Linked DNA regions of Homo sapiens: region 1 is linked to region 2. The links come from fine-mapping of genetic effects on gene expression. A gene starts in region 2. The other region holds a variant in brackets. All regions are shown on one strand. Distances are between the middles of the regions.

The links.
Region 1: its variant is fine-mapped to the expression of DUT-AS1 in whole blood (INTERVAL, PIP above 0.99).

What each region holds. Positions count from the first base shown.
Region 1 is chr15:48,354,283-48,357,192 of GRCh38, forward strand. No RefSeq gene overlaps it. Among named protein-coding and RNA genes, the nearest start is that of DUT-AS1, 24 kb to the left of the region's middle. The variant C/CT (reference allele first, on the strand shown) is at 1,607.
Region 2 is chr15:48,330,546-48,333,455 of GRCh38, forward strand. DUT-AS1 (DUT antisense RNA 1) reads right to left here and starts at 1,311. Exons shown (of 3, transcript NR_186809.1): 1 at 1,018-1,311. DUT (deoxyuridine triphosphatase) reads left to right here and starts at 884. Exons shown (of 7, transcript NM_001025248.2): 1 at 884-1,250; 2 at 1,723-1,861. The coding sequence starts at 971. RefSeq lists enhancers at 392-918, 919-1,443, 1,367-1,661 and silencers at 1,107-1,316, 1,367-1,661.

The DNA.
Region 1 (2,910 bases), 24 kb after region 2:
GAGTTTGGCCTTCGAATCACACATTGTTCAATACATAGGATAGTAACTCTTTGTGACTATTTTCTAATGTGCCATGGGCTAGAGAGGAAATACGACAAAATACTTTTCTACAAGGTCATTCACTTTGAGTATCAGAAAGAACATTCTACTTAGAATAAAATAAAATCCCAAGTGTGCCCATTTTAAAATCCCTGTGGGATTTATAATGGCTTAACTTTTAGTTGAGAAGAAATTTTTTTTTTTTCTGGCATCTTAGAGAAGCAGACAGAGAAGCAGAGGTGATGCTTTGACAAATAGTAGCATAGATCAGGATAAATGACAGGAAGCTCTCATAAAATATACTTCGATGAGAGCAAAGGCAAATAATGATATAATGCCCTGCAGCTACATGTTTGAAATGGAAATGTTTGGAATGAGGATGTTAGGGAAAATAATATTAGAAAAAGACTAATGCTGTATGAGGTTCCTGTCAGATGAGGAGTGTAGGATAATTGTGTAATAGTGAAATAATATGGTTTAGAAAAAAGAAGGTGCTGTTGACTGAGACTGTTTGATTATCATAGAAGAGATGAAACACTTTTTCATAGTCAGAAAAATCAATATACAGCCCAAGAAGAGAAGTCGTTTGATGATAAGGCAATAAAAACTTCAAAGGGCAAGTTAAAAATGTTTCCTAATTCATTTCAGCCTAAACTGATCCCTGCGCCCGTCTCACACTGTCCGCCAGCTCTTTTGCTGAAGTATGTTACCCTTTCTCCTTGGAATCATTACCCGGTCTCCTTGGAATGGAAACTGTGTCAGACTCCAGGGGTGAGTGGGAGGGAAAATGGTGCTCGCAGAAAGAGAGGAAGTGTTTTTTCAATTTAGAGCTAGAAGTAAGTGCTGACATTGTCTCATGTGTGTTTGGGGACAATGGCACAGGCCAGCGGTAACACATCCACTTTTCTGTGTCCCTTGCTCAGATGTGTTTGGCATGAGGCTGCAAAAGCCACGGCTACTTTATCGCACCCCAAATCTCTGAATCTCTGTTCTCCCTCCTGGGAATGTGAAATATGGACAACATGCAGTTTCTACCTTGTATTGTTAACATAATTATCCAGATGAATTCTCTTATTATTTCCCCACACATATTTTGAAACAAAAAATCCTTTCCCTTACGAAACTTCACTTCCTTTCTTCAGACGCACACCTTCTGTGGGGTTTGAACATTAACCTCAGCTGACTTCAGAGCTGCACTAAGCAAAGCCTGTGTTTTCTAGGCCAAAGTAGACAAAGTGAAGTGAAAGGAGCTGTTGCCAGTTGATGCTGACGAAGGTAGAAGAGAGGCTGGGTACTCACGCTAGGTTCCACCCCCTGCACCGCCCTCTCCCCCAGTACAGCTCATCTGGGAGTTCAGATTCCTCAGCCTTCTAGGTCACCTCTGATGAGCAGGGGCTGTGAGAACTGCTTAGCCTTTTGGCTACTGTAGTGTGGTTGGGAGAGAAAATACGTATTAATATTATTACTTAAAGATAGTTTTATTTGTGTCTATATTGAACATCTCTTGTTTAGAAGGCAAAATAATCATCTGCCTGCCACATTTTACTTCGTAGGCATAGAGTATCAC[C/CT]TTTTTTTTTTTTTTTTGAGACAGAGTCTTGCTCTGTTGCCCAGGCTGGAGTGCAGTGGCACGATTTCGGTTCACTGCAACTTCTGCTTCCTGGGTTCAAGAGATTCTCCTGCCTCAGCCTCCTGAGTAGTTGAGATTACAGGTGTCCGCCACCATGCCTGGCTAATTTTTGTATTTTTAGTAGAGGCGGGGTTTCACCATGTTGGCGAGACTGGTCTCAAATCCCTGGCCTCAAGTGATCCACCCGCCTCGGCCTCCCAAGTGCTGGGATTACAGGCGTGAGCCACCGCGCCCAGCCAGAGTATCATCTTTTAAACTGCTTTGTTCTAATATAATTATCTGTGTCCAAATTTTAGAATTGATTTTCATAACTTAAATTAGAATACAAATAATAAAAGGAAGAGAGCTAACATTTTTTAAGTGCTATATACACCAGGTGCTATTCTAGTTGTGTTCCTTTTACCTGAATGAGGTATTGTAAACCTAGGGGCAGAATTTACTCTTAGGGTGAAAACTGGTCTCTTTATTTTTAGGGAGTCAGCAAGCCATTCTGATGGGCTACTCAAATGTTAGAGTAGGATCTCAGAGCTCAAGGGCTTGTTTGGGCAGGCTGAGAAGGAGAGGCAGAGAGATGTGAGGGACTCAGGAGTTGGTGGCAGGGGTGGTTAGCAGGGGGCAGGAACGCCAAAATATGGTAGGAGGCTAATCAGAGAAAGGACCAGTGAGAAATTTCCTGCATCAAGGAGTGCCAAGACACTTCTTCTAAATTTATATTATGGAAATTTCTAGCATATACAAAAGCAGAATGAGAAGTATAATGAACCCCGTGTAATCATCACTCAGCTTTAACAATGATCCTCTCATAGCTGATTTTGTTTCTTCCGTATCCCTACCTACTTGCCCACTCCCAACCCCCAGTGAATTATTTTGAAACAAATCCCAGACATTGTATCACTTCACAGATTACATTTTAATCTGTTTTCCGAGCTATCTGTACGGTAGCTCCCCTCTTATTACCCAAACTTCAGTCAAATCCACTCCTTTAGTGTCAGTGGGACTTTAGAGGGGGACTAAAAGCAAAAGAGTTTGCATCTGGGCCAAAATGGGTGAAGAAAAAGTAGTGAGAAGCCTGATGCGCAGCCGAGATTAAGAATAAGCAGAGCTCCTGAGAATCCTTGAAAAGATTGGAGGTGAAGGGATGCTAGTTCTTCCATAGAAGTCAGATGGGAGTTTTATATAGTAGTGTGTGTGTCTGTGTGTGTGTGTGTGTGTGTGTGTGTGTGTGTGCTGTTATTAAAATGAAG
Region 2 (2,910 bases):
ATCGTGTTGCTAAAGGCATAAATTTGGGAGTCCTCAAGCTGTAGCTAATAGTTAACGTCCAGAGAAGGTAGTGTATATTCCATAGCCTCATGCAAAGGAATTCCAACTACGAAGACGAACCAGTTAAGGAGACCGAAAAGGGGGGGCCTGTATGGAAAGGCATAGCAACGAATGTAAAATTTCCCCAATAATACTCTAAAACTGCCCCACAGCTTTTTTAATTTTGAAAATTCAAAACCATTCAATTCAGCTCGCAGATTTTTGTGAGAAATAAGGAGATACTTGCAGCTCAGAAAAAATTATTAACAACTATCTAGAAAGTTACTGCTTTATCCCCCACTGTAAACTATACTACCACGACCCGGGATCCTTGTTCGACTCCTAGCCAAGGGGTTCCCACTGCGTTTCTGTTGGGTTATCCCAAACCTGTGATAGGATAGTAGCGCCCTCCCTGCCTCCGGTCGAATAAACACTACAACGTCTGACACTCGGTGCTGAAAGGAAATCGGGCGCGGTGTCTTGCCCACAGCTTGGGGAGCGGCCCCGGGCGCAATAACTGTCACCGGCGCCGAGATGCGGTTCCGGCGCTTAGGGCGCCGCTAAACTCAGAGCCCGGGAGTCATGGCTGCGGGCGGTGCCGCCCCAGGTAAATCAGTCCAGGAGCAGGGCCCGGGCCTGGCGTACACTCTCGGAAAAATGGGGGCCAGAGCAAACAAGAAGAGCGAAAGCAAGAGGGCTAGGCAGCCAGAGGCGGCAGCAAGACTCAAGACGCCAACGGCGCCGTCTTCCTGGGGCCCCAGGGCCTGCGCCATCCCTGGGCTGCCGGGGCACCGCCTCTCCACGCCCCTCGTCCGGCGGCGGCTGCGACTGCTTCCGAGGTCATGTTCCCAGGACGGGCGCGTCTTCAGGGTGGAAGCCTGGCGCACGTCCGGAGGTGCCGAGGACCCAACCAGCCCAAACTCTGGGGGAAATGACTCCCCTCTGCCCTCGCCCCGCGCTCTGCTACCATTTCCTTACGTCTCTGCTTCGCTCAGCGATGCAAAACGCGCGAGGCGCACGGCAGAGGGCCGAAGCCGCGGTACTCTCCGGGCCAGGCCCGCCCCTCGGCCGCGCCGCGCAGCACGGGATTCCCCGGCCGCTGTCCAGCGCTGGCCGCCTGAGCCAAGGCTGCCGCGGAGCCAGTACAGTCGGGGCCGCTGGCTGGAAGGGCGAGCTTCCTAAGGCGGGGGGAAGCCCGGCGCCGGGGCCGGGTAGGAAAGGCGGGGGAGGGGCTCCGGCCGTCTGGAAGGAATCCACGCGGCTTGAGGCTGTGGGGGAAGTAGGGTGGCGAGCGGTCCTTCTGCGCGCGGGGGGCGGGGGGGGTGGGGTGGTCCATTAGGGTCCCCTGGCGAGGGGGCGGCTTTCTAGTGTGTGAGGGCGACGCCCTAGAAGCTCCCCTTCAAAGTTGGCCCCACGCGCTGAATGTGGAAAGTTGACTGGGACCCAGTAGTTTCCCATCCCAAACCTGCTTTCCGAGAAGGGCTTCAAACCCAAAATGTGAATCCCGCCTCCCCTCTCAGCCAGAACTGTGGACTCGTCCCGGGGAGGGGCGGTGGGTGGGGCGGGGCTGGCGGGAAATTTCGGTTTTGGCGCGCTCCCTGCGGCGACGCTCATCGTGCGCTCTCCTCTTCCCCCGGTGGTCTCCTCGCTCGCCTTCTGGCTCTGCCATGCCCTGCTCTGAAGAGACACCCGCCATTTCACCCAGTAAGCGGGCCCGGCCTGCGGAGGTGGGCGGCATGCAGCTCCGCTTTGCCCGGCTCTCCGAGCACGCCACGGCCCCCACCCGGGGCTCCGCGCGCGCCGCGGGCTACGACCTGTACAGGTGAGCGGGGACCTGCCGGCGAGGAGGCTGGGAAGGGCCGGCCGTCCGCTGCCACAGCTAGAAACAGTCACCGGAGAGATCACAGGAACACACTAGCTATAAATAGGATTTCTGCCTTTTTCGTGTTTAAAATTTTAGCTTTCATCTTTGGCATAAATTAAATAGAGATTTGGGCAAAGACTGCAGAATAAGTAAAATAGCTATACGGTGTCTAGCAAGGCGTTACTTTGCAACGTTTATTGTGCCCTTCCTAAATAGAAGATAGAGAGGAAGGCCCATGGTGGCTTTCGAGTGGCCCGAGGGTGATGCTGTGCTCAATAGAAAAACCAAGGTGAGAGCCTAGATGTGAGCGTGAAAATACCTAAGAAGGATGAACGAAGATGCATCTGCCTTAAAAAGTTATTTTCTATACATTCATCCGGCCCAGGGCGGAATTTGAGAAGGCATCTGAAAACGAAAGGCAGAGCTGCCTGTAATCTACCACACTTTCATCTCTACAGCACGTTTTACCTGTACTAAAAACTTTCCGTATGCTGTTGTATTTAGTCCTCACAACAATCCTTAACTAGATAAGTGTTACTTTTTACACAGGCAGGAGTTTGTGAAGAGCTGAATTGATTTCCCCAGAGGCTTGAAGATGATATAATTTTTTATCCCGAATTTTGGGCTTTTTTTTTTTCATCTGACTACTGTGCCCAGTTCTTAGAACCATTAAGGTAGGAGAAAAGTAATGCTGAGAGGGAAGGAGATTTTATACTAAATCCCAAGCATTGGGATTTATTTTAAAGTATCTCAGATAATTCAAACATGAGAACTATTAGTCTAAGCACAGGAGAAGAGAAAGTAGTGCCTGATGATAGCAACAGAAAAAAAAGGAAAAGGAAAGTAGGTATGGACAATTGTAGCTGGAAAAACTACAGTCTCTTAATTTTGATGAATAAAAGTAGAGTGATATAGTTTGACTAGACCTTTCCAAAGTATATTTTGGAGCACTTTCTTGAGTCCTAGGGGAGTCCTTGATTTAAGATACCTTAAGTAGACTCCTAATA